Regions from separate parts of the Homo sapiens genome. Here region 1 is linked to region 2. Evidence: fine-mapped expression QTL. A gene starts in region 2. The other region holds a variant in brackets. All regions are shown on one strand. Distances are from middle to middle. Region 1 overlaps PLAAT3 (phospholipase A and acyltransferase 3). Region 2 holds the start of PLAAT4 (phospholipase A and acyltransferase 4).

The links. PIP is the estimated chance that this variant, and not a neighbour inherited with it, causes the effect.
Region 1: its variant is fine-mapped to the expression of PLAAT4 in whole blood (TOPMed, PIP 0.98).

The regions. Positions count from the first base shown.
Region 1 is chr11:63,576,345-63,592,945 of GRCh38, reverse strand. PLAAT3 (phospholipase A and acyltransferase 3) reads left to right here. Exons shown (of 5, transcript NM_001128203.2): 4 at 2,578-2,846. It overlaps LOC105369335 (a long non-coding RNA gene), which reads right to left. Exons shown (of 3, transcript XR_950179.3): 2 at 6,319-6,378; 3 at 2,856-2,917. Among named protein-coding and RNA genes, the nearest start is that of PLAAT2, 21 kb to the right of the region's middle. The variant C/T (reference allele first, on the strand shown) is at 9,525.
Region 2 is chr11:63,529,066-63,545,666 of GRCh38, reverse strand. It overlaps PLAAT4 (phospholipase A and acyltransferase 4), which reads right to left and starts at 8,859. Exons shown (of 4, transcript NM_004585.5): 1 at 8,790-8,859; 2 at 6,043-6,151; 3 at 778-1,046. The coding sequence starts at 8,798. RefSeq lists enhancers at 1-518, 8,911-8,960, 10,618-10,707, 13,095-13,754, 13,896-14,190 and 1 more.

The sequences.
Region 1 (16,601 bases), 47 kb before region 2:
TGCATCTCACTTGAGTTTCACAGGAGTCATGTGGGATAGATGAGGCAAGGAGGACTGACCTTCTGCTGCTGAGAAAACTGTAGAAATTAGAGCTGGAAGGAAGCTTATAAACTTGCTGAAGTGCCTGTCCTGTGCCAGACACTGGTGAAAGCATGTTTTCTGGCCAACCCCTTTAATCCTCACAGCTGCCTGTGCAGTAGGGACTATTTTTGTTTCTATCCTACAAGGAATGGGGGACTCAGAGAAGTTAAGAAACTTACCCAAGGTTGCATAATGGTAAGGGGTGCAGGCAGGACCCAAACCCAGGCAGTCTGACTTGATTCTGTGCACTTAACCACAATGCTGCACTGCCCAGTCCAAGCTATCCCAAAATTCAGTCGCTGATGGATTGCCACATCCACATGCTCTTTCTGTGATTGTTCACTTCATATTTTCTTCAGTAGACTCACTTTTTAAAAGAAGGAACTTTAGGCCAGGTGTGGTGGCTCACACCTGTAATCCCAGAACTTTGGGAGGCCGAGGTGGGTGGATTGCTTGAGCTCGGACCAGGCTTGAGTTCGAGACCAGCCTGGCCAACATGGTGAAACCCCATCTCTACTGAAAATATAAAAATTAGCTGGGCATGGTGGTGCACACCTGTAGTCCCAGCTACTCAGGAGGTTGAGGCATGAGAATCGCTTGAACTGAGGAGGAGGAGGTTGCAGCGAGCCAAGATCACACCACTGCATTTCAGCCTGGGCAATGGAGTGAGACTCTGTCTCAAAATAAGAAAAAAAAAAGAAGGAACTTTAAATTACTGTGTTGATATGTATTTGTGCATCAATTTTAGTGTGTATTTGGGGATTTCTGGAGCAAAGTGAAGTGACAGGTCCAGACCACTCAGCTGGTTGGTGATGTGCTGGGGTCGAACCCAGAGCTTCTCACCGCCAGCTTGAGCACAGGGTACCCCTGTCCTGGGTGGCATCTAGATATAAGTTTAAGGAAGTCCTCACTCTTGGTTGTTGACTCTGCACTTGCATGGCCCTGAGATTTGGTGCCTCCTTAAACTTTGGGCTCTAGGCAACTTGCTTGCCTCTTCCGAGTCCCTGCGCTGTCACCCACTTTGCCTGGGAGCTGAGGCTGGGTGGGCCCCAGGAGCTCATCCTCCCGACAAACGCAGGGCTCCAATAAGGCACCCTCTCTTTTATTTACTTCAATGAATCTTCCAAGCTTCACGTGCCCTTTTCCTATCAAGTCTGAATTCCCTAAATTTCTAATATCTTGGCATTGCATGTAGGCATTGCATGCAGGCTGAAAAGGTTTATTGGTCTTTGGAAAGCGGAGAAGAGCAGGACCTGAAATCTAATCGGCCTCTCCTGCTGTTGCTGTCACACGGATGTCATTGTTGAAGACTGGTCCTACCCAGTTTAACAGGGTGCTGCTGTGGCACCCTGGGGGCCTTGACCCTGACAGGGTCACAGTGGCTGTTTGAGGAGAGTGAGAGTGAACCTCCTTTGACATGCTCCCTGGGTGCGTAGGCCCATCCCTTGAGTGCATACCTACTTTTTCTTTTTCTTTTTTTCCTAAGGCAAGATCTCACTCTGTTGTCCAGGTCGGAGTGCAGCGGCGCAATCTCAGCTGACTGCAACCTAAACCTCCAGGGCTCAAGTGATCCTCCTGCCTCAGCCTCCTGAGTAGCTGGGATCACAGGTGCACACCACCATACACGGCTAGTTTTTGTATTTTTTGTAGAGACGGAGTTTTGCCATGTTGCCCAGGCTTGTCTGAAACTCCTGGGCTTAAGCGATCTGCCTGCCTTGGCCTCCCAAAGTGCTGGGATTACAGGTATGAGCCACTGTGCCCAGCCCATCCCCACTTTTTCAATCATCATACTCAGTGCCTGCCTCTCCCTGCGCCACACAGGTTGTTTGAGTTGGGAGGAATGCCCAGTCTGTGTTGGCATCAGCTTTCCCTGTCCACCATCCTGGTCTTCATGTTGAACCTGGACTCCTTGTCTTCAAGATCATTTCATTTCTGGAGCTTTGTGGCCCTTCCTTGCCCTGGGCCTTGGCCTGGGCTGTGCCCATGTACCCACTAAGCCTCCTTAGCATCCATCACAGCTAGGGGGACAGCTGTGCGTTTTGGTGGGTCTGTTTCCAGAAGGGCTGGGACTCTGGAAAACCCAGCCATGTTTTCTGCAGTAAGCAGCTTTGTGTGGTCAAGTAGGTGTAGCCCTGATGCCATCATAAAAGTCTCCCACCTTATCTTCCCAGGTGGATGAGTATGCTCTTGGCTCATATTTGCATAACCAAGGGGGCCACTTAAGTGTCATGAGGTATAGAAGACCACCTTCTCTAGAGTAAGAAAAAAATCACAGTAAATCATGGAACTTCACTCCCTTTCATTTTAGATAAGGAAACCAGGGCCCAGAGACCACACACACCTTCCCCAAGGCCCACAGCCATGCGTCTGACCCTTCCACTTGTTGCTTATCCTTTGTGGATGAGCCAAGGGCAGATGCCCGGCTGGGGGCCAGCTCTGAGCCTCCGTGGCCCTTCCCAGGACCAATCCCTCTGTTTCCTCTTTGTGGATCTGCAGGTGAGGTCGCAGGAGCTGGTGCAGCCAGTGTCATGTCCGCCCTGACTGACAAGGCCATCGTGAAGAAGGAATTGCTGTATGATGTGGCCGGGAGTGACAAGTACCAGGTCAACAACAAACATGATGACAAGTACTCGCCGCTGCCCTGCAGCAAAATCATCCAGCGGGCGGAGGAGCTGGTGGGGCAGGAGGTGCTCTACAAGCTGACCAGTGAGAACTGCGAGCACTTTGTGAATGAGCTGCGCTATGGAGTCGCCCGCAGTGACCAGGTGCGTCCTCTGCCTGTGTCGCCTTCCCCAGGAACCAGACCATTCCCTCTGCTGACGGAGGCTGGGCATGGCTATGGAGGCATGAACAAGACAAAATAGCAGAGACAGAATTACTGCCCTTGAGGATGTCACAGTTGGGACAAGGGTGGGGACAAGGGTGGGGAGAGAGGCAAGTTGGCAATGCAGATCAGTGTAGTCGGGGGCGGGGGTGGGTGGCCAAGGAAAGGAGTCACAGACATGATGATCATTCCCATTGCCAAGCCCTCCCTGGCCACCTGTCCCTGAGATGGCCCTCCCCAGCCCTAAAGGCAGGTTTTAGGACCCACTACCTTACAGATTGGGAAACTGAGCTTAAGTAACTTGTCTACAGCCATTCATTTCATCAAAAAAATCTTTGTTGAGTCTCCAGACCTGGTACCTGTCTTTTCCTGTGCAGATAATTAGCAGAGTTGGGATTTGAAGCCCAGGTCTGTGTGGCATAGCCTGATCGTGCTTATAAACAGCACTGTCTTCAGCCTGGCTGAACCCTAAGGGTGAATCTGGGAGACCCTAGGGGATGCAGTTTTGTTCATTTACTTGATTTTATTTTTGTCTTTCCTCTCCTTTCAATCTCTTTTTCTCTTCTCATTTCCTTGCACTTCTTCCCCCTCCCTTTCAGCCACTTCCATCTTTTTTTTTTTTTTTTTCTTTGCATAGGTGAAAAGAACATTGGGAAGGTTCTTACATGGCTGTTGATGCAAAAGAATACATATTTTTTTCAGTGAATGATTAGCTTAAGATCCATCAGGCTGTTCACTTTTATTATTATTTTTTTTGAGATCCAATTTCTTCTTCCCTGGTCAGTGTGGTGGTTAAGAGCCTGGGCTCCTGGAGTCAGGCCAACGTGGGCTGGACCTGGTCTCTGCCTTTTGCCGGCTGTCTGACCTCAGGAGAGTTAGTCCAGCTCCCTACACTTTGGTAAAGTACGAATGATAATACTCATCTTGGAGGATTACCTTGTGAATTAAATAAGAGCATGTTTATTCTTAGCACACTGAATACATTGTAGTAGTAAAAATAGTCATGATTATCCTCATTTTTTTTTTTTAAATTATCCTCCTCTTTTTTTTTTTTTTTTTTTTTGCTTGGCTCATCCATTGCCTGGTCCCCTGGCCTCTGTGGGCCACAGCCACTTGAATGGGAAGACACTGACTAACACCACCTATAGGAATCACTCTTACTCTCTTCATACTGCTGATAACCAGCTGTGCTTACTACACCAACCCTCATGTTTGTTAGGCGGTTCCTATACCTGTCTACAGTGGGATATTAGTTACCTTTGAATGGGTATCCTCTTATTTTTTTCTTCGATCAGTTGGGTTATTCATGTTCAACAACTATTTATATATGAATGTTAAAGGTGATCAACTTAGAAATTGAGTAGGTGGTACATAGCTAACTAGGTAAAGAAAGGGCAATATTGCCAATGTTTGTGAAGATTGCAGTCTGTTGGTCATGGTCTGGCTTCAACTTCCCTGAGAGTTGATAAGAGCTTTCTTCTGGGGAATCAGTGGGCAGGGCCATGAGAAGAACTTCATTAGTGCCTGAATATTGTCAGGTTAAAAAGGTGATGCAGTGAAAGAAAGCAGGAGACCAGGGGATGGTGGCACTTACTACATCTATCTCTTGGGGATAACAGCCTTCAAAACATTTGTGTCTTGTTTTTCTTTTCTTAAAACAATTTTATTTTAGGCCGGGCACAGTGGCTCGCACCTGTAATCCCAGCACTTTGGGAGACTAAGGCGGGCAGACCACTTGCGGTCAGGAGTTTGAGACCAGCCTGGCCAACATGGTGAAACCCCATCTCTACTAAAAATACAAAAATTAGCCGGGCATGGTGCTGGGCATCTGTAATCTCAGCTACTCAGGAGGCTGAGGCAAGAGAATCACTTGAATCCGGGAGGCAGAGGTTGCAGTGAGCCGAGATCACACCACTGCACTCCAGCCTAGGTGACAGAGCAAGACCCAGTCTCAAAAAAAATTTTTTTTATTTTATTGTTTTTTATTTTAATAGAGATGAGGTCTCACTCTGTTGCCAAGGCTGGTCTTGAACTCCTGAGCTCAAATGATCCTAACGCCTCAGCCTCCCAAAGTGCTAGGATTACAGGCATAAGCCACTGTGCCCGGCCACATTTGTCTCTTGTCACACTTGATGAGGCATTGCTGTCATCTTGGTATCTCTCTTTACTAGCATCCTAGAAATTTCTTTCAGTTCCCTGCTATATTAATGCTTTTATCCTCTGTAGTTCACATCCTTCTCTTTTTTGGTTTATGCCCTTGTTTTGGTAGACTACTTCCCCTAATAGTTTACTGAGAAATGGTACATTTTAAAAAGATCCCTAGGCAGGCATGGTGACATGCGCCTGTAATCCCAGCTACTGGTGAGGCTGAGGCACGAGAATTGCTTGGACCCAGGAGGCAGAGGTTGCAGTGAGCCGAGATCACGCCACTGTACTCCAGCCTGGGTGACAGAGTGAGACTTGGTCAGAAAAAAAAAAAAAAAGACCCAAGAAACAAAAAACAAACAAAAAAAGATCTTGCATGCCTGAAAATATCTTTATTTTATCCTCACATTTGATTAATCATTTGGCTGGGTATAGAATTCTAGGTTAGAAATAATATTTTTTTTTTCAGAATTTTGAAGGCATTGGTTTATTGTCATCTAGCTTTTGTTATTGTGGTAGAGAAGTCTGAAGCTGTTCTGATTTTTTATTGTTTGTATGTGATCTATTTTTTCTTTTCAGAACTGTATAGAATCTTCTCTTCATCCTCAGTGTTCTGAAATTTATTACCTTGCACGGGTCTATTTTCATGTATTGTGCCAGGTACTTGGAAACTCACTTTCTTTAGTTCTTGGAAATTTTCCAGTTTGTATTCTCTGGCACTCCTATTATTAGGCTATTGGATCCCTAGACTGCTTTGCTGATTTTCTTATCTTCTCTCTCTTGTTTTTTATTTATGTATCTTTTTATTTATTAAGACAGAGTCTTGTTTCGTCACCCAGGCTAGAGCACAGTGGTGCGATGTTGGCTCGCTGTAACCTCTGCCTCCTGGGTTCAAGTGATTCTTCTGCCTCAGCCTCCAGAGTGGCTGGGAATAAAGGCATGTGCCACCACACCTGGGTAATTTTTGTATTTTTATTAGAGATGTGGTTTCCCCATATCGGCCAGGCTGGTCTGGAACTCCTGACTGCAAGTGATCTGCCTGTTTCTGCCTCCCAAAGTGCTAAGATTACAGGCGTGAGCCACTGTGCCTGGCCCATTTATGTATCTTTTTAAATTTGAAAATGAACATTTATTGACAGATTTAGGTATAATAGAAGTTTTTTTTTTTTGAATTAGCAGTGACAATATTAGCATAAGAAAGACAAACATGATAACAAATTGAGTTTCATCATTGGTGATCTTGCATCACTATCAAGGTGTTTACTTACTCTTGGTAAAACTCATGCTCCTATGCAGCAATAAACTCCAAATACAGAGTACAAGACAACCTTGGGAAGCAATAAGATACTTTTTGAAATTCAGAGTTCTACGTTAAGAATATTTGGTAGGTTTACAAAATATATCCTAATCATCTCATTTAGTTATTCTTTCAGCAGTTATTAACAGAATAAAGAACGGGGCTGGCCGGGCGTGGTGGCTCACGCCTGTAATCCCAGCACTTTGGGAGGCTGGGGTGGGTGGATCACCTAAGGTGAGGAGTTTGAGACCACCCTGGCCAACATGGTGAAACCCCGTCTCTACTAAAAATACAAAAATTAGCTGGGTGTGATGGCGGGCACCTGCAGTCCCAACTACTCAGGAGGCTGAGGCAGGAGAATCGCTTGAACCCTGGAGGTGGAGGTTGCAGTGAGCCAAGATTGCGCCAGTGTACTCCAGCCTGGGCAACAGAGCGAGACTCCTTCTCAAACACACACATACACGTGCACACACACACACACACACACCCAAGTAGCTGAGACTATGGGTGCACATCACCATGCCTGGCTGATTTTTGTATTTTTTGTAGAGACAGGGTCTCACTTTGTTGTCTGGGCTGGTCTTAAACTCTTGGTCTCTAGCAACCCTCCTGCCTCAGTCTCCCAAAGTGCTGGAATTATAGATGTGAGCCACTGCGCCTGGCCATAAATGCTATTTGGAGTAATTAAATAAAATTCCAAATCTTGAGATAGTAAAATAACTAAGAAATGTCTTATACCATTATTCTTTTTGTAAACAATAATTTAACACTTGCAAAATGAAACAATGCAAATTGAACACATCACACTTTTCTTCCTGGGACTTTGGCCCTACCCATCTACCCATTCACTTGAAAGAGGCAAAACAATGATAACACAACAGTGAAACAGCATGAACAATTCTACTTGATCCCATCACAGAAAATGAAGCCAGAATATTCTACAACAAAAACAGAGGTGCCATCTCTACTGCTTCTAAAGATTTCCTCTTTCATTTCTTGGTCTAGGATAGGGGTTTCTCAGCCTCAGCACTATTGACATTATGGGCCAGATAATTCTTCATTGTCAAGTCCTGTCCTGTGCACTGTAGGATGCTTAGCAGCATCCCTGGCCTCTACACACTAGATACCAGTAGCATCCCACCGCCAGATGTAAGAACCAAAAACGTCTGTAGACAATTCCCCCCACAGGGAAAAACTGTCTCCAGTTGAGAACTAGTGACTTAGGTGAGTAATGATCACTGACACATGCTGTGAGTCAAATTAACATAGAACTTCTGGCCGGGCGCAGTGGCTCATGCCTGTAATCCCAGCACTTTGAGAGGCCGAGGCGGGCAGATCATGAGGTCAAGAGATCGAGACCATACTGGCCAACATGGTGAAACCCCGTTTCTACTAAAAATACAAAAATTAGCTGGGCGTGGTGGTGTGCACCGGTAGTCCCGGCTACTCGGGAGGCTGAGGCAGAATTGCTTGAACCCGGGAGGTGGAGGTTGCAGTGAGCCAAGATTGCGCCATTGCACTCCAGGCTGGGCAACAAGAGCAAAACTCCATCTCAAAAAAAAAAAAAAAGAACTTCGATGCATGCCCCATCTTGCTAGAGATGATAGATTTAGTACATATCAGAAAATGTCCACCAGTATTTTTCTTTGTAAGCACTGTCAGTGCAGTGACTCTCCTTTTCATTTAACTCATGAGGATATTTTTGTGTGTTTTAAAGAATCTGACCAGTCATTATATTTGTGCTGAGCTCTTTGAAGCAGACTAGATTTTCCTTCAAAAGAATATTTATGGCCAGGTGCGGTGGCTCACGCCTGTAATCCCAGCACTTTGGGAGGCCAAGGCAGGTGGATCACGAGGTCAGGAGATCAAGACCATCCTGGCTAACCTGGTGAAACCCCGTCTCTACTATAAATACAAAACAAAATTAGCTGGGCGTGGTGGCCTGTAGTCGCAGCTACTTGGGAGGCTGAGGCAGGAGAATGGCGTGAACCCAGGAGGCGGAGCTTGCAGTGAGCCGAGATTGCACCACTGTACTCCAGCCTGGGCGACTGAGCAAGACTCTGTCTCAAAAAAAAAAAAACAAAAAAAAACAAAAAAAAAAGTTTATGATTAATCAAATTTCCTGAGAAGGGAAACAATGAATTTAAACTAAAACGTAATTTGTGCTTTACATGCCTAAGAATATTCTAAAAAAAAGATTCTCCTACTTTCCACCTACCTAAAAATATTTAGGTTTCAAAAAACATATATTTTAGTAGGGTTTTGTAAAGAAACTTTCATACTGAACAGTACTTAAAAAAAAAAAAAAAGCAACCAGAAGCTATACTCACAATGAAGTCTAGTCTGAGTGAGAGAAAATATTAAGGTAAATAGAAATTGAAGATGTGTCTGGCGGCAATACATATATTACATAAATCTGGATAAATTGTGGGGTATTATTTTGAAATTACTGTAAATGAAACCAAATTTTTATGCAAATATTTTATTTCTTTTTAAATGATTTATTATTTTTTGTATACTTGATCACTGTTGGAAAATATACAACTATTTCATAACCATTCTTATATTGTAACCTCTAACAGTCTCAATTGGATTGCTTTCAGAATAACACTACTATCTCCACTTCTTCTTTAATCCACCTATAACATTGTTGAAAGTGAAGGCAGCACATTAGCACTTTCTTTTTTCCAGAAATGATTTAGATTTCCCTAAATCAAGGCTTAACTCAGAAGAGCTTTGTAGTATAAATGTCTAAATGTCTGTAGTCTGGCAGAATTTGTTTGCCCACTTAAAAAAAAAACAGTCTTCTTAATATTTCTAATGAGAGACAGCTTTTCTCTTTCACAATATCCTGATATCCTGATTTAAGACCTGTGACACACACCAGGTAGCCCATTTTCATGATCAGAAATCCTGTAATAACAACACAGCAGCTGGATTGGACCTTTCAGTCTTGCAACATGAAAATGATCAATGGCATCTGAAGGTAGCACTGACTCTTGGAGAGAGAGTTTTTCCCATCAAGTTTGCACTATTAGGACTAACTAGCTTCCAACAGTCTTGTGTTTAATCATACTCTTTGACTATGTACAAAGCATGGCCACAAACAATGAGGTTATTGTTGTTTTCCTTGACAAAGTATCTTTTGTATGAACCAGTTGCATCAGCTTTTGTTTT[C/T]ACACCATGAGGTTCTATAAAGAACTAGGGACATATTGTTCCTCCTCCATTATCTGCAGACTATTTCTCCTACCCTGACACAGAGCTTAGCAAGGAAAATGCTGGATACAAGTGATTTTATGCAGGTTCCCTAGCAAGTTAACCCAACAGAACCATGGCTGCCACAAAACCATGCCTAATTATCTTTTAGAGGAGCATTTAAAGACTTAGCAGCAGTCAAACCTCAGGTTGGTAGCTCCATCCAAACTTTGGTCATCATGAATTCTGTCTGTTAAAACTACTTTTTTTTTTTGAGATGGTGTCTCACTCTGTCACCCAGGCTGGAGTGCAGAGGTGTGATCTCGGCTCACTGCAACCTCCGCCTCCCGGTTCAAGTGATTCTCCTGCCTCAGCCTTCTGAGTAGCTGGGATTACAGGTGCGTGCCACCATGCCTGGCTAATTTTTGTATGTTTAGTAGAGATGAGGTTTCACCATGTTGGTCAGGCTGGTCTCGAACTCCTGACCTCATCATCCGCCTGCCTCGGCCTCCCAAAGTGCTGGGATTATAAGCATGAGCTACTGTGCCTGGCTATCTGTTAAAACTTCTATGTGACCAATGTTGAGAAGAGTTTGGGGATCTTCAGTGGTTAAAAATATATACGTATCTTGATGCTACTGAGGCTTATCTGGGCCATAAATGTGTTTAATGTCAGGAAACACATAGTTGTGTTTAACCTCAGGAAACACAGCAGTGTAATTAACACAAGGTGCCCAGAACTGATTTCTCAGCAGCCAGAACTCATGATGAGAAAACTCACAGCTGAGTGTCGTGGTGAATTGTGATAGTTTCCTTTCTGTTTTGGGAGGGAAGTGGAGGGAGTTCTTTTTTCTTTATGATAATTATTACTTCCTTTCATTGCCGAGTTTTCTTTGTACCTGTTGTCAATTCTTCCCACATGATCCAATTAGCTCTCAGTACAGTTCTCCACAAGGGAAACCATGTCAAGTAACCTACAAGTTCTTGTTTATTTTGCTTGGACACGTCTATCCCAGAGATGGCCCTTCTTCCCTCTGTGCTGGTTGCTCCTTGGCCAATTGCATGGCTGTCATCCTGGACTCCCCTTGGCTGTCATCCTTTGGATTTCCTTTCCTTCTCTTGGATTGCATTCTCTGATTCTATGATCTCTTAGTTTTCTGTTTCTTTGCTCTTTCTCTTATTTAGGTAGATCACATCCTCCAGAAGTTGCTTTAGGTTAGAAACACAGTACAATGGGAGAGGATAGTGGTTATGGCAGTCCTCAACATGCTAGGCTCTGGAGTCACAATGCTCCAATCTGGATTGATAAGTGCATTATTTTCCTATTGCTGCTGTAACAAATTAGTACAAAGTTAGTGGCTTAAGACTCCACAATTTATTATCAACAGTTCTGTGGGCCAGAAGTCTAAAATGAGTTTCACTGGGCTAAAATCAAAGCATTGACATTCTTTTCTAGTGTCTGTAGGAGAAAATCAATTTTCTTGCCTTTTCCAACTTCTAGAGGTTACTGGTATTGGGGGAACCAGTCCCTAATATTTCAACATAGGTTCTTTTCTATTTTCCGTAAGTGTTGGCCAGGCTGAGAAATAAAGAGAAAGAGTACAAAGAGAGAAATTTTACAGCTGGGCCTCCAGGGGTGCCATCACATATTGGTAGGACCGTGATGACAACCCCCAGCCACAAAATCAGCAAGTTTTTATTACGGATTTTAAAAGGGGAGAGGGCGTACAAACAGGGAGTAGGTCACAAGGATCACATGCTTCAAAGGGCTATAAAGATCACAAGGTGAAAGCAAAATTAGAATTACTGATGAGGGTCTGTGTCCTGCTGTGCACGCATTGTCTTGATAAACATCTTAACAGGAAACAGGGTTTGAGAGCAGACAACCAGTCTGACTAGAATTTACCAGGCTGGAATTTCCCAATCCTAGTAAGCCTGAGGGTACTGCAGGAGACAGGGCATATTTCAGTCCTTATCTCAACTGCATCAGACAGACACTCCCAGAGCGGCCGTCTATAGACCTACCCCCAGGAATGCATTCCTTCCCCAGGGTTGTTCCTTGCTCGGAAAAGAATTCAGCGATATTTCTCCTACTCACACATCTGTCTATAGGCTTTCTGCAAGAAGAAAAATATGGCTCTATTCTGCCCGACCCCGCAGGCAGTCAGACCTTATGGTTATCTTTCCTTGTTCCCTGAAAATCGCTGTTATTCTGTTCTTTTTCAGGGTGCACTGATTTCGTATTGTTCAAACACACATATTTTACAATCAGTTTGTACAATAGTGGTCCTGAGGTGACGTACATTCTCAGCTTACGAAGATAACGTGATTAAGAGATTAAAGACAGGCATAAGAAATTATAAGAGTATTAATTGGGGAAGTGATAAATGTCCATGACATCTTCACAATTTGTGTTCAGAGATTGCAGTAAAGACAGGTGTAAGAAGTTATGAAAGTATTAATTTTGGGAACTGATAAATGTCCATGAAATCTTAACAATTTATGTTCTTCTGCTGTGGCTTCAGCTGGTCCTCCGTTTGGGGTCCCCGACTTTCCACAACATACTGGCATTCCTTGGCTTATAGTCCCCATCTATTTTCAAAGCTAGAGCAATGGCTGGTTGAGTCTTATATTGCATCATTGTGACACTAACTCTTCTGTCTGTCTTCTACCTTTTAAGGAACTTTGTAATTACATTGGGCCCATCTGAATAATCTAGGATAATTTCCTCTTTTTTTTGTTTTTGTTTTTTTGAGACAGTCTTGCTCTGTTGCCCAGGCTGGAGTGCAGTGGCGTGATCTCAGCTCACTGCAAACTTTGCCTCCTGGGTTCAAGTGATTCTCCTGCCTCAGCCTCCCAAGTAGCTGGGATTAGAGGCATGTGCCACCACGCCTGGCTAATTTTTGTATTTTTAGTAGAGATGGGGTTTCACCATGTTGGCCAGGCTGGTCTCGAACTCCTGACCTCGTGATCCACCCTCCTCGGCCTCCCAAAGTGCTGGGATTACAGGCGTGAGCCACCACACCTGGCCGATAATTTCTGTATTTTAAGGTAAATTGATTAGCAGCCTTAACTCCATTTGTAAGCTTAATTCTCACTTGCCATGTAGCATGATATATTTATAGATTCCTGAAATTAGGACATGGACACCTTTTGGGGCTTATCATTCTGCCTACCAGTTATTCTTTACACCTGGTACTAAGTTGTTATCCTGGAATCTCCCTTTACTGTCATTCTGGGGAGATTCCCTTCCAGTCTCTCTAGTAGTAGAAGGCCCATTTTCTCTATCTCATGTCTTCTACTTTCTCCATTTACTCCCCTGTTTTTGGGGAACCATTTTCAGCAGCTTTCTGTAAGAGGATGCATGGGAGGTAAATTCTTTGAGACCCTGTGTGTCTGAATTATTTGTCATTTTACCCTCTCACTTGATTTGATACTTTGTCTGGGTATAGAATTCTAGGTTGGAAATGGTTTCACTTCAGAGTTTTGGAGGCATTGCTCCATTGTCTTCTTCTTTTTTTTTTTTTTTTTTATTATACTTTAAGTTTTAGGGTACATGTGTACAACGTGCAGGTTTGTTACATATGTATACATGTGCCATGTTGGTGTGCTGCACCCATTAACTCATCATTTAACATTAGGTGTATCACCTAATGCTATCCCTCCCCCCTCCCCCCACCCCACAACAGGCCCTGGTGTGTGATGTTCCCCTTCCTGTGTCCATGTGTTCTCATTGTTCAATTCCCACCTATGAGTGAGAACATGCGATGTTTGGTTTTTGTCCTTGTGATAGTTTGCTGAAAATAATGGTTTCCAGCTTCATCCATGTCCCTACAAAGGACATGAATTCATCATTTTTTATGGCTGCATAGTATTCCATGGTGTATATGTGCCACATTTTCTTAATCCAGTCTATCATTATTGGACATTTGGGTTGGTTCCAAGTCTTTGCTATTGTGAATAGTGCTGCAATAAACATACGTGTGCATGTGTCTTTATAGCAGCATGTTTTATAATCCTTTGGGTATATACCCAGTAATGGGATGGCTGGGTCAAGTGTTATTTCTAGTTCTAGATCCCTGAGGAATCGCCACACTGACTTCCACAATGGTTGAACTGGTTTACAGTCCCACCAACAGTGTAAAAGTGTTCCTATTTCTCCATATCCTCTCCAGCACTTGTTGTTTCCTGACTTTTTAATGATCGCCATTCTAACTGGTATGAGATGGTATCTCATTGTGGTTTTGATTTGCATTTCTCTGATGGCCAGTGATGATGAGCATTTTTTCATGTGTCTTTTGGCTGCATAAATGTCTCCTTTGAGAAGTGTCTGTTCATATCCTTCGCCCACTTTTTGATGGGGTTGTTTGTTTTTTTTCTTGTAAATGTGTTTGAGTTCATTGTAGATTCTGGATATTAGCCCTTTGTCAGATGAGTAGATTGGAAAAATTTTCTCCCATTCTGTAGGTTGCCTGTTCACTCTGACGGTAGTTTCTTTTGCTGTGCAGAAGCTCTTTAGTTTAATTAGATCCCATTTGTCAATTTTGGCTTTCGTTGCCATTGCTTTTGGTGTTTTAGACATGAAGTCCTTGCCCATGCCTATGTCCTGAATGGTATTGCCTAGGTTTTCTTCTAGGGTTTTTATGGTTTTAGGTCTAACATGTAAGTCTTTAATCCATCTTGAATTAATTTTTGTATAAGGTGTAAGGAAGGGATCCAGTTTCAGCTTTCTACATATGGCTAGCCAGTTTTCCCAGCACCATTTATTAAATAGGGAATCCTTTCCCCATTTCTTGTTTTTGTCAGGTTTGTCAAAGATCAGATAGTTGTAGATATGTGGCATTATTTCTGAGGGCTCTGTTCTGTTCCATTGGTCTATATCTCTGTTTTGGTACCAGTACTGCTCCATTGTCTTCTTGCTTCCAGAATTGCTTTGAGAAATCTGAAGCCATCCTGATTCCTGATCTTTTCTCCATTTCCTGTTTTTCTCCCTGCTCTAAATGTTGTAATATCTTTACCCAATGCTATAAAATTTCATAGTAATGTGCCTTTGTGTAGGTCTACTTTTATCCATTAAGATGGGACTCAGAGCACTATTTCTTTTCTTTTTTTTTTTTCTTTTGAGACTGAGTCTTGCTCTGTTGTCCAGGCTGGAGTGCAGTGGCACCATCTCAGCTCACTGCAACCTCTGCCTTCCAGGTTCAAGGAATTCTTCAGCCTCAGTCTCCCAAGTGGCTGGGATTACAGGCGCGCACCACCATGCCTGGCTAATTTTTTGTATTTTTAGTAGAGATGGGGTTTCACCATGTTGCCAGGCTGGTCTCGAACTCCTGAGCTCAAGCAATCTGCCTGCCTTGGCCTCCCAAAGTGCTGGGATTACAGACTTGAGCCACTGCACCCAGCCGGATTGTTCTGTTTTTTATTTTATTTTTTTCCCTTTGGTTTCTATTTCTTTATTTTTTTGCTATTCTTTTTGAGAGATTTCCTTAACTTAGCTTTATCTTTCAACTTTTCTGTTGAGTTGTTTTTTCACATTTTTATTTTCTATGAACCGTTTTTATTTTCTCAATATTGCATTATTTTTTATAGTACCACGTTCTTATTTATTGGATACAATATGCTGTCTTATTCTCCAGTGATAATTTTTACACTCGATCTTAGCCAAGAGGCCGAGAAGCGATCTAATGATAGTTTTTAAAAGGACGTTTCCTTTTGGATGCAATATGCTGTCTTATTCTCCAGTGGTAATTTTTATACTTGATCTTAGCCAAAAGACTGAGAAGCTATAGTTGTTAAAAGGATGTTTTCTTTTCTAGATATAGTTTCTGTTTCTCCAGATTGCTATTTTTTTTTTGTCTCTGTCTTCAATTTTAGAGGACTTCTTCAGATGTTTGGTGTGTTGGTTGTATGCTCATGATTAAAAGTACACTTGCCTGGCTGGGTGCGGCGGCTCACGCCTGTAATCCTAGCACTTTGGGAGGCCGAGGCTGGTGGATCAAGTGGTCAGGAGTTCGAGAGCAGCCTGGCCAATATGGTGAAACCCCATCTGTACTAAAAATACAAAAATTAGCTGGGCGTGGTGGCGGGTGCCTGTAATCCCAGCTACTCGGGAGGCTGAGGCAAGAGAACCACTTGAAACTGGAAGGTGGAGATTGCAGTGAGCTAAGATTGCGCCATTGCACTCTAGCCTGGGCAACAAGAGCAAACTCCATCTCAAAGATTAAAAAAAAAAAAAAAGTGCACTTGCCAACCATCATGTTCAGTTGAATTCAAAGAAAACCAACTCACATTACTTAGTGTAAACTAAAATAGTTAACAAATTATATCCTAAAAACAATGTCTGTTTGTTAAATGTTGTTGCCCTAGGTTTTTAAATTACAACATCTAAATACAATTTCTCCTCTTAAATTTGTTAAGCTAAATATGTATTTGTTCTTTTTATTTTAGATTCCTTAAAGCATTTTAAACATTTCTTTTTTTCCAAGAGAAATTACAAATAACACTTCTGTCAAGTGGTACTTGTGTAAAGGCACCTTTCTTATTTTATCACTTTGGTTTTTCAGTTTTATACACTTAATATACTCACTGTCTTACTATCAGGAAATTATTTTGACCAAGATTTATTATTCAACTTCATAGGTTAGGAAAGAGATGCTAATTCTTTCTACCTATGTTTTCCTTGTTACTATTCTCTTACCCTCTATATATACTGGCCTCTAATGTATACTGTAAAATCATTGTATTGTTGAGATCACTTAATTATGATTTATATAAACAGTACCTCACCTCATTCTTGCTGTGTTGCCAAGGACGGAGCCCAATGGCGCAGTCTTTGCTCACTGCAAATTCCACTTCCCGGGTTCAAGTGATTTTTTTCTGCCTCAGCCTCCTGAGTACCTGGGACTATAGGCACGTGTCACCAGGCCTGGCTAATTTTTGTGATTTTTAGAGATGGGGTTTCGCATGTTGGCTGGGTTTGTCTGGAACTCCTGGCCTCAAGTGATCCACCTGCCTCGGCCTCCCAAAGTGCTGGGATTACAGGCGTAAGCCACCACACCCA
Region 2 (16,601 bases):
TCACTGTGTACTATTCCCAACTGCAGCCTGGAAACTTCCATCTCCAGCTGTACTTCAGCCTAAACTCCATGCCTTATCTCCACCTGGGCCTCTAATGGGGCACCTCAGACATCACATGCCACGCCAAACTCTGGATTTCCCTCCGCAAAGCCTCTACTCCTGCCACCATCCCTCTCTCATCAAGGGCCCCCAACCATTCAGTCACGCAGGCCAGGGGCCCTGAGTAGGCATCACAGGCAGAGACTCTAGAAAGGGACAGCTGGGGTTCAAATCCCGGTTCTGCCACTTATTAGTTGAGTGTTTTGGGGCAACAAATGTGAAAGACTGTGAAGGGGCAAGGGATGGAGGCTGTGCCCAGATCTTACACACAAATGTCCTTGAGCTCTTACACAGGTCCACGGACCCTGAGCGTCCCTTGCCTGAGTACTCTTTGGGGGGTTGCAGGACCTGTCATTGTCCTGGGTTGGCCCAGATTCTCCTGATGACCCCCAGAACTTCAGGAGCCATTTTCAGGATAGGTTTTAGAGGGGAAGGATCCTCAGAGCTCCTCCATCCACCCCCTCCTCTGCACATGGAGAGGCCTGGGGGGAAGGGAACTGTCCAAAGACCCTCTGTGGATTAGAAGCAGATCTGGCATTGGAGCTCAGAGGTCCTGACTCTCAGCCAGCAGGTCTCTAAGAGGCTGCATTTGCATCATTCACAGTGATCGCCTGGCTGCACAGCCCCGTGAGTCCAGCCCCAAGCAGAGGGAGATGGATTATCCAGAGAGGTCCTTACCTGTTTACAGCGGGACTTGCCATATCTCAGCTGGGTGACAAAGTGCTCACAGTTCCTGCTCACAATACTGTACTTCATCTTCTGACCAACCATCTCCTTCGCAGAACTGATGATCACCTCCACGGGCCGTGGTTGGTACTCATGGTCCAAGCTGTTGTTGACCCGATAGCAACAGCCTCCCACCACATCTTCCAGGCGCTCCCGTTTCACCTCTGCACTGTTGCTCAGGACTGAGAAGACACTGGAGGAGCCAGCCCCGGGGTACTCACCTGCAATCAGAGGCACTCTCACTGGCAGGGGAAGGTGAAGTAGGGAGAGAAGGGCTTGAAATCTCCACTAAGGAACTACTGGTGTTTATCCTTTCACAAATGTGATTGAAGGATTCACAGATTTTGCTTTTTTTTTTTATTTTGATGGAGTCTCACTCTGTTGCCCAGGCTGGAGTGCAGTGACGCGATCTCAGCTCACTGCAAGCTCCATCTCCTGGGTACACGCCATTCTCCTGCCTCACCCTCCCGAGTAGCTGGGACTACAGGCACCCACCACCACGCCGGGCTAATAGATTTTGCTCTCTTTTTTTAATAAAATAAGGTGTGAATGTTCGTTCAAGTCAGTGAATGTCATGATTGCCAGTGGCTGCTGCCATATTCCATGCTATGCATGTACATCACTTCTGTGGCCAATCCCCTGTTATCCGTCATTTAGGTATTGGAAAAATTTTCATCATTATAAACAATGATGGTAAAGCATATTTATTACCTGTTCAGCTTTGTACACTTGTGTTTCGGAAAAAGATCCAATTCGTTTAGTACCCACTGTTTCAGTTACCATGCTGTGCTGTTACACATACTTCCTAATTTAATCTCCTTTTTAACTTTCAAGGAAAATATTATCATCTCAATTTAAAAACCAATATTGGGCTGAGAGACATCATGAGACTTTTCTGTGCTATGAAAAGTCCTAGAATCAGGATGTGAAACTGCTTCTCTTAAGCCCCAAAGGGCAGGCTCCTTCCACTGCACTGGGCTGACCCTGAGGGAATCCTTTGTAAAGTGTCTTCTGTCCTACAATCTGGCACAGTTCTAGGCACATAGAGAGGAACACAGAAGAGCTGTCAACCAATGGAGCCCCAATTCCATTATATAGTGACTCCAGGTGTTATCTTATTTTTATTAAAATGGATAGTACCTAATGCACACAATAATTAGGTGTGTTACCTCTTTTGCCCCGTTTCTAATCTCAAGGCTGATGTTTGCATTTAGAACCCTCTTAAGAAAATCCTGTTGGCTGGGCGCAGTGGCTCATGCCTGTAATCCCAGCACTTTGGGAGGCCTAAACAGGTGGACCACTTGAGCTCAGGAGTTCGAGACCAGCCTGGACAACATGGCGAGACCTGTCTCTACAAAAAATACAAAAATTAGCTGCGCGTGGTGGCACACGCCTATCATCTCGTCTCAGCTATTCAGAAGGCTGATGTGGGAGGATCACCTGGCCTGAACTCGGGGAGGTCAAGACTGCAGTGAGCCTGATCCCTTGCATGTGCAGTTCCCAATGGGGTTTGCACTCCTATGAGAATCTAATGCTACTACTGATCTGACAAGAGGCGGAGCTCAGGCAGAATGCTCACTCACCTGCCTCTCAGCTCACCTATTGTGTGGCCCGATTCCTAACAGGCCACACACAGCCCAGGGTTGGGGACCCCTGCTTTAACTGATGCATTGATTTGATAAAGTATTTTACAAGCCTGATAATGTTATAACCCTATTTATTCAGGTCAGATTTATGCCAACTTTGCTGAGAATATGGAGGGTATAGATGAGTGAACATCAACAAACATAACTTCTACCGTGGTTAAGAATTTTACTTAAGAAAAGTATTGAAGTTCAAATCCAGGTAGTATTACATTTGAAATTTTTATAAGGGTTATTAATTTAATAAAATTCATTATCAGGTTTCCCCTATAAGCTTTCTCCTAGGTTAGTTTTCCACAAGCATTGTTTTACATACACTGTAATCAGGATAACACAAGCTTAGTGTTAGATCTTGTAGGAAACCAAGATTAGAAGCATTAGAAATGTGCAGAATTTAAGAAATTATGTTTTGTGGTAATCTGTGGCCAACGATGATAGAACCTAGTGCAATTGTAAAGTGAAATTCAAGGAGAAGGAATGAGGAGTTAGGCAAGCAGCACACTTGAATATTAGTGAAGGAGAGGAGCTGTGAGTCAGGAATCAGAGAGACCTGCTAAAACCAGACAGATATAAACACCAAAGACGGAAGCCAAATAGGTAGCCAAAAATCCAGATATTTGAGAAGCAGGAAATTTACAGCAACCAAAGAAATAGGGCAAGATAGGCAGGTGAACACACATGATACCTCAATTGACAATCTTCCTCCTACCAAGCCAGACACGTTGTAAATGCTGCTTCCCATTGGAGCCCAGAAAAAAGGAAAGTTTAGGCTTTCTGTGTCCTATGTGTGGAAGCAGGGAATTGGATTGAAGACTTTCATAGTTGTAAAATAAAGGCAAATCCTGAGGAACTCACTGATAGAGATGTGAAATGACAGTACGGAAGAAAACAGAATAACTATATAAATATATTAGTCTAGGGCCACTTAATTTAGAGGAAGAAAAAAAATCACCCCATCCACAGAAATAGTTTGATAAACAGGTCACTAAATAATTAGCATTTATAAAGATTCTTAGTTATCAAGGGCTGCATTGTATTTTATATACTCAGTTTTATAAGGCGATACTTTTAAATAAGCATTTTAATGAAAATGGTTAAACTGAAAATAATTTTGGTCCTTAAAAGGAGTCAGGAGCTTTTATATATAAGGTACATATTTTAAAAGAATACCTCCTTTATAACAGGGTTTTACAGACACTACTGTAATTTATAATCATTGTTTTTTACTTTTGGGTTCACCTAGATCGTATGAGTTGGTATGATACTTCCAGAACAAAATTATTCATAATGTGTTTTTTGTAATTTATGATTTTTAAGTAAGCTTGACTTATAAATTGACATTGTAATTTTGTACATAATTGGATATATGTGCTAAAATTTAACATTTAGATTTATTTAATTGTAGAAAATACAAATGTAAAACTTATACATGGAAAGAACTGTATGCAGTTGACTTTACCATGGAAATTGGAGGGAAACAGTTTTAGATCAATTTTCTTTCAAAATTTTCTTTATTGTAAAGTATGCAAAATATATATTCATACCATTTATTAAATCAGAATGTTTATGCAAAAAAAAAAAAAAGACTGCAGTGAGCTGTAATCACATCACTGTACACCAGCCTGGATGGCAGAGTAAGACACTGTCTCAGAGGAAAAAAAAAAAAAAAAAGGAAAGAGAGAAAAATTGTCTTTAAAAAGCCTCTTTACGGCTGAGCGCGGTGGCTCATGCCTGTAATCCCAGCACTTTGGGAGGCCGAGGCTGGTGGATCACGAGGTCAGGAGATCGAGACTATCCTGGCCAACATGGTGAAACCCCATGTCTACTAAAATACAAAAAACTAGCTGGCTGTGGTGGCATGCGCCTGTAGCCTCAGCTATTCGGGAGGCTGATGCAGGGGAATCGCTTGAAACTGGGAGGCGGAGGTTGCAGTGAGCTGAGATTGCACCACTGTACTCCATCCCGGTGACAGAGCAAGACTCTGTCTTAAAAAAAAAAAAAAAGCCTCTTTACACACTGCAAGTTAGGCACAAAAAGGACCATGTGTCTTCATTGCCATGCTTTGTCTTACAAGGTCCCTGAGGATCATCTGGATTAAGTGGGCTTGATTTACTATTTTCCATCAATTCAGACATTTTTACAATCCTGCCTGGGAGATGATGGCTTGGAGAAAACTGATAAGATGCAAATGTCTTGCCCTGATAGTGATGGGAATGGTTTTTGTCCAGTGACAATGTAAATGCTTGGTGAAAAGAGAACATGAGAAGTTATGTAGTGGCACTGCCCTAGAGGATATGAACTTGCCTGCACCTACCTAATTTGGCAGTCTCATTGTCTCATTTCTGCATTTTTGTTGTTGTTTTTTGAGACAATGTCTTCCTCTGTCTCCTAGGCTGGAGTGCAGTGGCACTGTCTCAGGATCTCGGCTCACTGCAACCTCCGTCTCCCAGGTTCAAGCAATTCTCCTGCCTCAGCCTCCTGAGTAGCTGGGATTACAGATGCCTGCCACCACCCCCAGCTAATTTTTGTATTTTTAATAGAGACGGGGTTTCACCATGTTGGCCAGGCTCGTCTTGAACTCCTGACCTCAAGTGATCCGTCCGCCTTGGCCTCCCAAAGTGCTGGGATTATAGGAGTGAGCCACTGTGCCTGGCCTCTGTGTTCGTTTTTTCCCCTTTCATTGGCTATCCATACATACGTTTCCTTCATTCTGCTTTTAACTGGGTATGTCATATTTCTGCTTCTGTTATTAATGAGTTAAATAAAACATTGGTATTGCTTACTGTGTATTTGTATGAGAATTTTAAAAAAATGTATAAACCTGTGAGAATTGCTCCCAGTAAGGAATCTTAAGTATATAATATCAAGACACCTTGTTGTGTGAAAACATATGAGGCAAAGGATCTGGCACGGAGAAACATTGTTCCTTTTGAGAAACTTTCTTCTTTAAGACCTAAGAAACCTGGCTGGTTTAAGTCGTATGAGATTCTGCATGCCAAGGTAACTGACTTTGAGCTGGAGAGATCCCAATGCTGAAGCAGCCCAGCTTCGCTGCGGGAGGCAACGGTCTCTTCTTCCGTTCTGCCAGGACCTATGGAATGCACTGTGTCTACTTCATGGGACATATGTGTGTGCAATCTCATCAAGCATCCTCTAAGAAGAATGTGTCTCCTAACTCAAGTTTCCCTTGCTTAACTGTCTTTCAGTGGCTCTCATTGACTTATTTTTTTATTTTTTGAGATCAAGTTTTGCTCTTGTTGCCCAGGCTAGAGTGCAATGGCACGATCTCGGCTCACTGCAACCTCTGCCTCCGGGGATCAAGTGATTCTCCTGCCTCAGCCTCCTGAGTAGCTGGGATTACAGGTGTGTGCCACCACACCTGGCTAATTTTGTATTTTTAGTAGAGATGGGGTTTCTCCATGTTGGTCAGTCTGGTCTTGAACTCCTGACCTCAGGTAATCTGCCCACCTCGGCCTCTCAAAGTGCTGGGATTACAGGCATGAGCCACCGTGCCCGGCCCTCTCATTATCCTTTTAACAAATATTTTGAAAATTATATATTCATCAGTCCTTACTTGGAGGAGCCAGATGGATCACGTAGCCATCTCCTATATACAGGGCCCAGTGCTCATAGCCAAGGCGGAAAATCTCAATCAGGTCTCCAGGTTTGGGCTCTTGGTGTGGCTGCAACAGAAAAGCCAGAGATGGAGTACCCGGCCTTCTAGGCAACAGCAGAGACCCTGGCTGGGGGAGCTGCAGCTCATCCTGGAGACGCCTTGCTGATGTTCATCAGCTGCTAGCCCCATGAGATCCTCAGCCCTGCTGTCACTTTCAGAGGCTCTTCTCAGTGGGGGCACTGGGGGCTGGAAGCCTGGAGAATGATCTTGTGGGATGGGAGACAGAAGGACCGTCTGGGCGCATGTGTGACATGTGTGTGCTGTGTGTGTGCATGCTGAGGATGCAGATGTGTGTGCATGTGTGCATTGTACACATGCTCCTCAGTAGGCCGACTCAAGAGCCTGCATGAACCAGCACCTTCACTGAGGCCAGGAGCAAGGCTGGGAAGGTGAGTCTTGAGCTCTCCGCCCTCTGCAGACTGACCCTCAGTTCCTCATCACTCCTGCCCTGTGCCTCTCCATGGCCCCAAGAGCCACCTCCTCCTCAGACCTTGCCCCATCCAGCCTCAGGACACCTATCTCTTGGAGATGACACCCTGGGAGACAGGAGCTCACAGCATCCTGCTGGGACCTGAGTGGGGTCTTGTGGGGCCCCCCAGCTCCCAGCACTGAGGGGGCTCTGCACTCACAGAACAGGCCTCTGTGGGAACTTGTCCTACAATAACTGCACCATCTCCACAGCCCCAGGGGAAGGCATGATCATCCCATTGCACAGATGGGGAAACTGAGGATCAGAGAGGTGGCAGGGCTTTCCTGAGAACACTCAGCTGGAAGGAGGCCGAGCTGGTTCTTCCCTGCACACCCCTCACCCTGGTTCCTGTCTTGGCCACCTTCTTCCCCTTCCTCACCTCCTTCCCACTTCTCCATGTCCTGCCCCAGGGCATAGCAGCCTCATGACTGGAGGATTTTTCCATTTTCACCCTCTCTGTCCCTGTCCTCAGTGGGTGACAGCCTCCTCCTCCCTCATCCCAGGATGTCCCATCATAGACCTGGGGTCTGCTCTCCTTTGCCCTCTTCCTCATGCCAATATCCAGTCACTAAAACCAATCAATGTGGACTCCGGAAGCTTCTCCTTGTTGGTGTGCTTGTCAATATCCCATCCACTGACTTGGTTCAGGCAGCCCCATGCCTGCCTCTGTGACCCCCACAACCCCCTGACCAGCCCCTGCCTCCTGTCCCTGCCACTCCATATCCAACTCCTCAGAACCCATGGTGGCCTTCCCAAGGGCACATCTGGCCATGACCGTCCTCTGACCTCAGGGCCCAGGACACACCCTGTGGGCAGCTCCCAGGCCCTTCCTGACTGGCCCTTCCTCACCCTCCTCTCCCTCCCTGGGCTCTGCACCCACAGGCCCACTGAGTGACATCCCAGCCCCTCACTACTGCCCTGGCTCTGGTCTCTGCTGCTCTGCACATCTGGTTCTCCCTGCCTCCATCACTTCCCTGCAGCCACTCTTCCTCTTCCCCTCCCTCAAACCCCCTCACCTGAGAAGCTGCCCTGATGGCCCCAGCCTGGCTCAGCTGACCCGCCACCCCACTCCTAGGACCTGGGTCCCCGGGGGCCTCTGCTGCTCTCTGCAGGGGTCAAGTTGAGCTGCAATTCCCTGTGCCTCCCTGTGCCCCTCTGGGCTGTGAGCTCCAGGCAGGCAGGATCCTGTGTGCTCCTCCCTCCCTGCACCTCCAGGACCCAGTGAAGGGCCTGGCGTAGAATGGGGCAAGGAAATAGACAAGGAAGAGGGAGGAGAAAGGAGCAGGGCCAGGACTCCCTCCCAGCTCCTCCTCTGTATGTCAGGGCACCACAGGAGATGGTTTCCATGTGGGGAGAGAGAGGGGCTTTTAACTGCAATGCTGAATGTCTAAAACCACAGTCAAGGTACTGGCAACCTCAGCTGGTGGCCAGTGAGATATGAGCTTTGGCCTGGGCTCCCTGTTAAAAGCCCTGATTTGTTTTGGCAGCAGTAAAGCCCTTCCCCAGGATCAGGTGGTGCTGTTGGAGTGGGCTGCCCTCCAGAATTTGCAGGACTCCTTCCCGGAATGGTTTTGTTTCTAGTAATAGCCTGAGCCCCGCTGTTCCTTTTTAGTCACACACCACCGAGCTCAGCCTGCTCTCCCTAGAGCTTCTGCCAATCGGTACATCTGGGCTGATAGGAGGAGAAATTTCAGTTTTCAGAAAGCTGCTGAGATTAGAATGCACCTTAGAAGGCTGGATGATGCCACAGAGGAACGAGGAGAGAGAAAGCATCGTTTGGGGCCGAGAAGGGACTGAGCCCCAGTCACAGCAGAAGCAGACGATGTTGGGATTTGCTTGCTTCCCACAACCCAGAGTCCCCCACCTGCCCACACTCTGGCTTCTCCTCAGGCTGAGGTAGATTTGACACCCGGCACCCCACAGCTCTCTACTACATGGGAGTCCCGGGCTCCCCGCACTGTGCCAGTTACGCAGAGGAGGTGGACTCTGCCCAGAGGACTCCCTGTCCAGCTGGGCAGATGCACTTTTAAAAGACAAATACAGTTTTCCATGACAGCCTTCTAAAGACGAGCTCTGGAGCTGTGTGCCCAAGGCCAGGAGCCTGGACTGAGGCCTTTCCTAGGGGGAGCTGCCCAACTGCTGTAGAGTCAGTAATGCAAAGCCCTGGGAAACTTACCGAAGCCATCTCGAAGCCAAGAGGAGGTCTGGTGCTCCTCTTGTTTGTGGATCAGCTTTTATGCTGAAGGAGAGAATTTCACTTTCACTTTCCTTTTGACACTGTTTCAACCTCACTTAAATACTAAACACTGTTTAAAAGAGACAACTGTTTAAAAAGGAGCTATTTCTCTAGATGGAAGGACTAATCATTTCTTACACAAGCCATGGACTCATTGGTGCTTTAAAGCCACCTTGGGAGCAGCCAGAGTCGAAGGGGAGCCCTGAATTTCTGCCCTTGCTTGAGAAATAAAGGTCTTTTCTTTTTTTTTCTTTTTTGTTTGTTTGTTTGTTTGTTTGTTTGTTTTTTTGAGACAGAGTTTCGCTCTTGTCACCCAGACTGGAGTGCAATGGTGCGATCTCGGCTCATTGCAACCTCTGCCTCCCGGGTTCAAGTGATTCTCCTGCCTCAGCCTCCCAGGTAGCTGGGATTACAGGCACCTGCTGCCATGCCTGGCTCATTTTTCCATATTTAGTAGAGACGGGGTTTCACCATGTTGGCCAGGATGGTCTCGATCTCTTGACCTTGTGATCTGCCTCCCCGTCGGTCTCCCAAAATGCTGGGATTACAGGTGTGAGCCACCGCACCTGGCCAAAATAAAGGTCTCTTCTAAAAAGAACCCTGGGCAGCTCTTCCTACTCCAGGAAGGGGAGGCATTCGGAGGCAGGGAGATGTCAATCCCCAGTGCACCCCATAGGACATTGTCTTGTAAAGACACCCAGAAAATATTGGGCCAGAAGTCTTGGGAGAAGGCCAGAGGGGGTGTTTCATTCCATGGGGATGCCCTGGAGGTGAGGGGTACCTTAGACCATGTGGAGCCTGGGAGCTCATGGCCCCATTAAAATGCATTTGGGTGCAAGAAGCAGAACTAAACTCAAAAGGGCTTCAACAGCCTGGACACCCATTGTCTCGGTAACAGAAAGGCAGGAAGAGGGTGACTCAGGTTGGGTTTAGTGGCTCACCAAGGTCACCAAGGACTCAGCAGGCTGTCTCCATTGCACTGGTCCTGGGTCTGCACTGTTGCCCTGCAGGGACTCCCATGGCTGTAGCAGCCTTGAGTGGCCCATTTTTACCTGGCTATGCCCAAAAGATGGAGGGAAAGATAATTCTCATTTGTCTTTTTTTCAGGGAGTTAAGTCTTTCCCACAGTTCCCCAGATGACCTGTTCCCTTCTCCATTGGCCAGAACTGGGCCATATTTTCACACCCAACCAGAGGCCTAGACAGGTGGATCACTTGAGCCCACGAGTTCAAGACCAGCCTGGCCAACATGGCGAGACCCCGTCTCTGCTAAAAATACAGAAAAAAAAATTAGCCGGGCATGGTGGCATGTGCCTGTACTCTCAGCTACTTGGGAGGCGGAGATGGGAGGATCGCCTGAACCCAGAAGTCAGGCTGCAGTCAGCTGAGATTGCTCCACTGCAGTCTAGCCTGGGCAACTGGAGTGAAACCATGTCTCAAAGCAAAACAAAACAAAAAACCCCCATTTCTGTTGTTTAGGTTAGCATGCCTCTGGGTTTCACTCAAAACACTGTTGAACGATGTTGCTGTGTTTGGGCAGAGCTTCCAGGGACCGCTGTGGATATCATGAGGAAGCCTCAGAGCTTTCTCGGGCAGAGCTTCTACAGGTGTCTTGCCGTGGTCAGTTTCTTTGCTGTTTTTATGGCCCTCTGCAGGAGTGTCCATGGTCATTATCTCAGCCACCTTTTGGTTTCAGTTTCTCATCAGGTCTTGGGGGTGTCTGGCCACAGCAGATGTTATCTTATTACCTCAGTCCTTTATACCTATGTTTATCATTTTGAGGGTTCAGCAGTTTCACTGTGGGCTGAGTCACTTGTCGTAAGTGACTCCATTTTGAAATATTTAGGATCACAAAACTCTTTAAGGGGGCCCCCACAAGAGTCTGCATTCAACAATCCCAGAGTCTGGGTTTTTGCCTTGTGGCATAATAAAAATTTTTATTTTTAAATAAATTTATGCCTTGTAGCATAATAAAAGTTTATTTATGCCTTATGTGGCATGATAAAAAAATATATTTTTGGTCTTTGACCCCAGTTCCAGACACAGAGGTCCTAAGACCCTTGGAATTTCCTGAGTGATAGGATGTCATGTTATTCAGAAGGAGTCTCTGTCAAACAAATCTGAGTTTATGCTAATGAGGTGGCTCTTGGTTGAGGAGGGAGAGCTGGATAACTTCAGGTTGGGGACTGATCACCATTATTTAATCAGTAATGTCTACATTATGCAGCCTCCGTAGAAACCCCTACATGACGGGGTTGGGAGAGCTTTGGGGCAGGTGAACACAGATGTGGTGGGAGACTGGCCTGGCTGGAGAGGGCATGGTGGCAAAGATTCTCTGTGTGACCACATTTTAGTCAGGTTCCCAAACCTCTTCCTAGGCACATCTGTACTTCCTTGTAAAATCTAATTTTAGCAAAGGACCCTGCCAAGTCAGTTTAGCAGGAACTTCCCACCCTCAATATCTGACCGGGTTCATCCTTCTCACTGTCCTCCAGGTGATGTCTGATCACCCCGGCCTGTCTTCAGCAAGAATCCTGTTAGTGTGGTTTAACCAGAATCTCTCTTGCCCCTGAGGTTTCCTCTTTGTAATTTTGCATCCACTGACCTGTATGCTTCTCCTTGCCTATGAATTCCCACTTGCCCGTGCTGTGTTCAAGTTTGAGCCCCATCTCTCTCTCTTGCTGCAAAATCCCAGTGCAGTGGATATCAAGCTTGTATCATTAGATAATTTTTTCTTTAACAATGGAAGCTGTGCACAATCACTGCCCCCCATATTAGTTTCTTCTTAGTTTCTTCCATGTAGCTGTTGCTGAGTTGTATCCTTTATAATAAACTGACAATCATAAGTAAAGCAGTTTTCTAAATTTTGGAAGTTGTTCTAGGGAATTATCAAATTTAAAGGGGATTTAGGGGGTCTCCACCATTTGTAGTCAGCCAGGTAGAAATGTGAGTAGCCAGGGAACTCCATTTGTTGCTGAGCCTGGAGACTTTACCTGTGGAGGCTGAGCCTAACTCTGGATAGTTAGCGTCGGAATTGAGTCGGATTGTTGAACATGCGGTCAGTGTTGGAGAATTGCAGGACTGATTGATGTGGACAAATGACATGTATTTGGTTGCTATCAGAAGAAACCATACATGCCCACTTCTGTTACTCGAAAAAAAACGGGGATCATTCGTTTAGTAACAAACAACTTTTCATGAGAACACAGGTGTGGATCAATAGCAGTTTTATTACTTGGCACAAGTAAGGAGGACACTGTGAGGATTCTCCAAAGCAGTCTTCCCTACGAAAAGTGACAGGAGGGTTTTATGGGTGATGGAGAGGGGAGAGGGTGCATCGGCACATGCAGAGGAGGGGTCCCAGTTGCACAGATGCAGTGAGTCATCGTGCCAACACATAGGTTGCATGCTATGGTAATGAAGCTGTAGCTCCTCCGGGGTGGAGACTTTAGCATGGTAATGAGGAAAGTTCACTCAGATTCATCTGTAGGTTGCTGGGATCTGTTAGGAGCTGGTTTTAACCAACCACATGACTGCATTCTATGCAAGGTTTAGGAAGAAACAGGCTACAGGATGGTAGGCTGTAAAAGGCTGATTGCTGAGTTGATTAAATTCCTATAATCCCTGGAAACCCTTGCTGTCTGCTTACACTTCCAGTTCATTGCAGCTTGTGCTGAGGTTGAAACAGCTTGTGGTAGATAGTGTCAGGTTTTAGCTTAGAGTCAGTTCCAGGCAGCTGGGGTCTGTGAATGCAGGACTCCAAAACAGCCAGTGGCCTTTCTTCAGCAGCACCAAAGCTTAGATGCTGCAGGAGTGACGGCTGTATTCCAAGTGACAAACAAGGCTTTCTGAAGCCTGTTCTGCTTTGTCAGACTTGGAGTCCAAACTGACCCACATCAGGATGGATGGTCTGCTCCAAAGGATCAGACATCTAATCCCACAAGAGCACATTAGCAACGGAGACTGCCTCTCTTTCTCTATTGCCTCTTTTTTTCCTAGAGGCTCCAATAGGTAACAATAATAGCAGAAATAATCAGTTATGAAGACTGATTTGTTTTTAATACTCAAAGAGTTTAAATTCCAACCAGCCCACTGACAGCAAAAATCTAGGAAGTTGTGCTTTACCACCAACACTTTCTTCTTGCAGCTTTCCCTGATTGGGATGATATCTCTAGCATGTATGAAATTACAAGCATATGATATTTTACATTAATTTATATTGTATATCTAGATGCAATAGCTGCTGTAACCCAAAAAATATTTGAGACAGCTTTCAGTCAAAAATTTAGAGATTTATTTAGCTAAGGTTTAGGACACATCCAGGAAAAAAGGAACAGAAAACCATAGGAAACATCTGTGATTCGTGCTTTTTCCAAAGTGCGTCTGGGGACATCATTATTTAAAGGGAAAAGTGTGGGCATTAGGGGAAAGAGAAAAGGGAAAAAAAGGGAGGGTAGATAAAAGAGGCAAGTGGTTGCATTCCTTTGAGTCTTTGATCAGCATTCACTGAATCTGCATTTTACATGTGAAAGGAGGGGGTAGAGGAATAGTTAATTATGCATTCATTTCATGCTTAGTGAATCTGGATTTTTATATAAGCAGTCAAATATGCATTTGTCTCAGGTGAATGGAGGGATGACTTATAGTTCTGTCCTTTCTCCCATACCTGTGATGATAAGCTGTCAATTTACATCATCAGGGTGTCATTCAGCAGAACTGTTTTAGGGTGAAGATCTTGGGGCTCACAAAGAATTCCCTTGTGAGCAAATTGTTAGGGAGTTATATAGCTTTTTATTTTTGTAGCTATCTATTTAGGAACAAAATGGGAGGCAGGTTTGGGTGACCCAATTCCTAGCTTGAATTTTCCCTTTGGCTTAGTGAGTTTGGGTCCCGAGATTTTGTTTTCCTTTCCTGCAGCAAAATAGAAAGCCATTTAAAAATATGTTTTTTCATTGCAAATTTATTTGAAGCCATGGCAGCATTCAGTATTTAGATGTTGAGAAAGACTCTGGCTGGAATTTGGGACAAGGAAATGTTCCCCCTCCACTAACCTACTATAGTAGCGAGGTAGGAGGCTGGCAGGACTTGCTTTCTCGTTGCAGCCCTGTTGATCATGTTGATTGGAGCAGGATGTGGTCAGAACAGTATGCAGTGAAGAAGCCAGCCAAAACTAGCAGAGGGTGATGGAAGTGACCTCTATTTGCCCTCACTGCTCATTAGCATAAGACACTCCCACCAGTGCCATGACAGTTTACAAATACCATTGCAATAGGCCATGGTAATGGCCTGGAAGTTACCTTAGATGGTTCTGGAAACTCTCCACCCTTTTCCAGAAAGTTCTGAATAACCCGTCTCTTAATTAGCATATAATTAAAAGTGGGTATAAGTACAGCTGCCAACAGCCCATATGTTGCCAACTCAGCCCGCTGCCTATGGGTTAGTCCTGCTCTGCAAGGAGCAGTACTGGTTCAAAAAAGTTGCCTTCTCTCACCATAGGCTCATCCTTGAATTCTTTCATGGGCTAAGCTCCAATGTGGTGTGGGGAAAAGCAAGAGAGATCAGATTGTTACTGTGTCTGTGTAGGAAGAAGTAGACATAGGAGACTCCATTTTGTTATGTACTAAGAAAAATTCTTCTGCCTTGAGATTCTGTTAATCTATAACCTTACCCCCAACCCCGTGCTCTCTGAAACATGTGCTGTGTCAACTCAGAGTTGAATGGATTAAGGGCGGTGCAAGATGTGCTTTGTTAAACAGATGCTTGAAGGCAGCACGCTCCTTAAGAGTCATCACCACTCCCTAATCTCAAGTACCCAGGGACACAAAAACTGCGGAAGGCCGCAGGGACTTCTGCCTAGGAAAGCCAGGTATTGTCCAAGGTTTCTCCCCATGTGATAGTCTGAAATATGGCCTCGTGGGAAGGGAAAGACCTGACCGTCCCCCAGCCCGACACCTGTAAAGGGTCTGTGCTGAGGAGGATTAGTAAAAGAGGAAGGAATGCCTCTTGCAGTTGAGACAAGAGGAAGGCATCTGTCTCCTGCCCGTCCCTGGGCAATGGAATGTCTCGGTATAAAACCCGATTGTATGCTCCATCTACTGAGATAGGGAAAAACCGCCTTAGGGCTGGAGGTGGGACCTGCGGGCAGCAATACTGCTTTGTAAAGCATTGAGATGTTTATGTGTATGCATATCTAAAAGCACAGCACTTAATCCTTTACATTGTCTATGATGCAAAGACCTTTGTTCACGTGTTTGTCTGCTGACCCTCTCCCCACAATTGTCTTGTGACCCTGACACATCCCCCTCTTTGAGAAACACCCACAGATGATGAATAAATACTAAGGGAACTCAGAGGCTGGGGGGATCCTCCATATGCTAAACGCTGGTTCCCCGGGCCCCCTTATTTCTTTCTCTATACTTTGTCTCTGTGTCTTTTTCTTTTCCAAATCTCTCGTCCCACCTTATGAGAAACACCCACAGGTGTGTAGGGGCAACCCACCCCTACAATGTGGGGCCCAAACATGGGACACAGATTTGGCATGGGACACAGATCCAAACCAGTCCAAACTGGGCCCACTGCCTGTCTTACAAGACCCATGAATACAGCTATTCTCATTTATTTTTGTATTGTCTATGGCTGCTTTTGTGCTACAGTGGCAGATTGTGTGGCCTCCTGGCATGCGAGGCCTAACATATTTATTACTTGGGTCTCTGCTGACCCCCTGGGCTAGAGGTTTATCAATTTTATTGATCTTCTCAAAGAACCAGCTTTAGACTGATTGATTTTTTTCTTTTTCTACTTTATTTATTACTTCTTCTATCTTTATTACATTTTCTTTCTTTGCTTGTTTTGGTTTTCATATGCTTCCTCCCCCTTCTTTTTTTTTCTTTTCTGGCCAATTGCTGAAAACCTGGCTCCCCTACTTCCTTGAGGTAAAAGCTTAGATCATTGATTTGAGACATATCTTCTTTTCTAATATAAGCTAATACTATAAACTTCTCTGTAAACACATTTTTAGCTATATTCCTCTGAGACTGTAGGAATAAAAAATGTCAGGCCTCTGAGCCCAAGCCAAGGCATTGCATCCCCTCTGACTTGCACGTATATGCCCAGATGGCCTGAAGTAACTGAAGAATCACAAAAGAAGTGAATATGCCCTGCCCCACCTTAACTGATGACATTCCACCACAAAAGAAGTGAAAATGGCCGGTCCTTACCTTAAGTGATGACATTACCTTGTGAAAGTCGTTTTCCTGGCCTCATCCTGGCTCAAAAACCTCCCCAACTGAGCACCTTGCAACCCCCACTCCTGCCTGCCAGAGAACAAACTCCCTTTGACTGTAATTTTCCTTTACCTACCCAAATCTTATAAAACGGCCCCACCCCTATCTCCCTTTGCTGACTCTCTTTTCGGACTCAGCTCGCCTGCACCCAGGTGATTAAAAGCTTTATTGCTCACACAAAACCTGTTTGGTGGTCTCTTCACACGGACGCGCATGAAAAAAAACAACGTGCTTTTTCTATTCTCTCATTCAACAATAATCAACAAAACGTCTTCTGTGACCTCTGCTCACCAAGAAATGTGTGATTTGTCCCCACCAACTACTCATTCATCAATTCTGCAGCAGACATCAGCTGTGTGTCCTCTCATTCTGTTCAATTTTGACACTAATTGGAGATAATGTCAGATCCCACAGGTTGAGGGCTCAGTTGCACAAGATTCTCCCCAACTTCTGATGTGAATTGCCAGCTT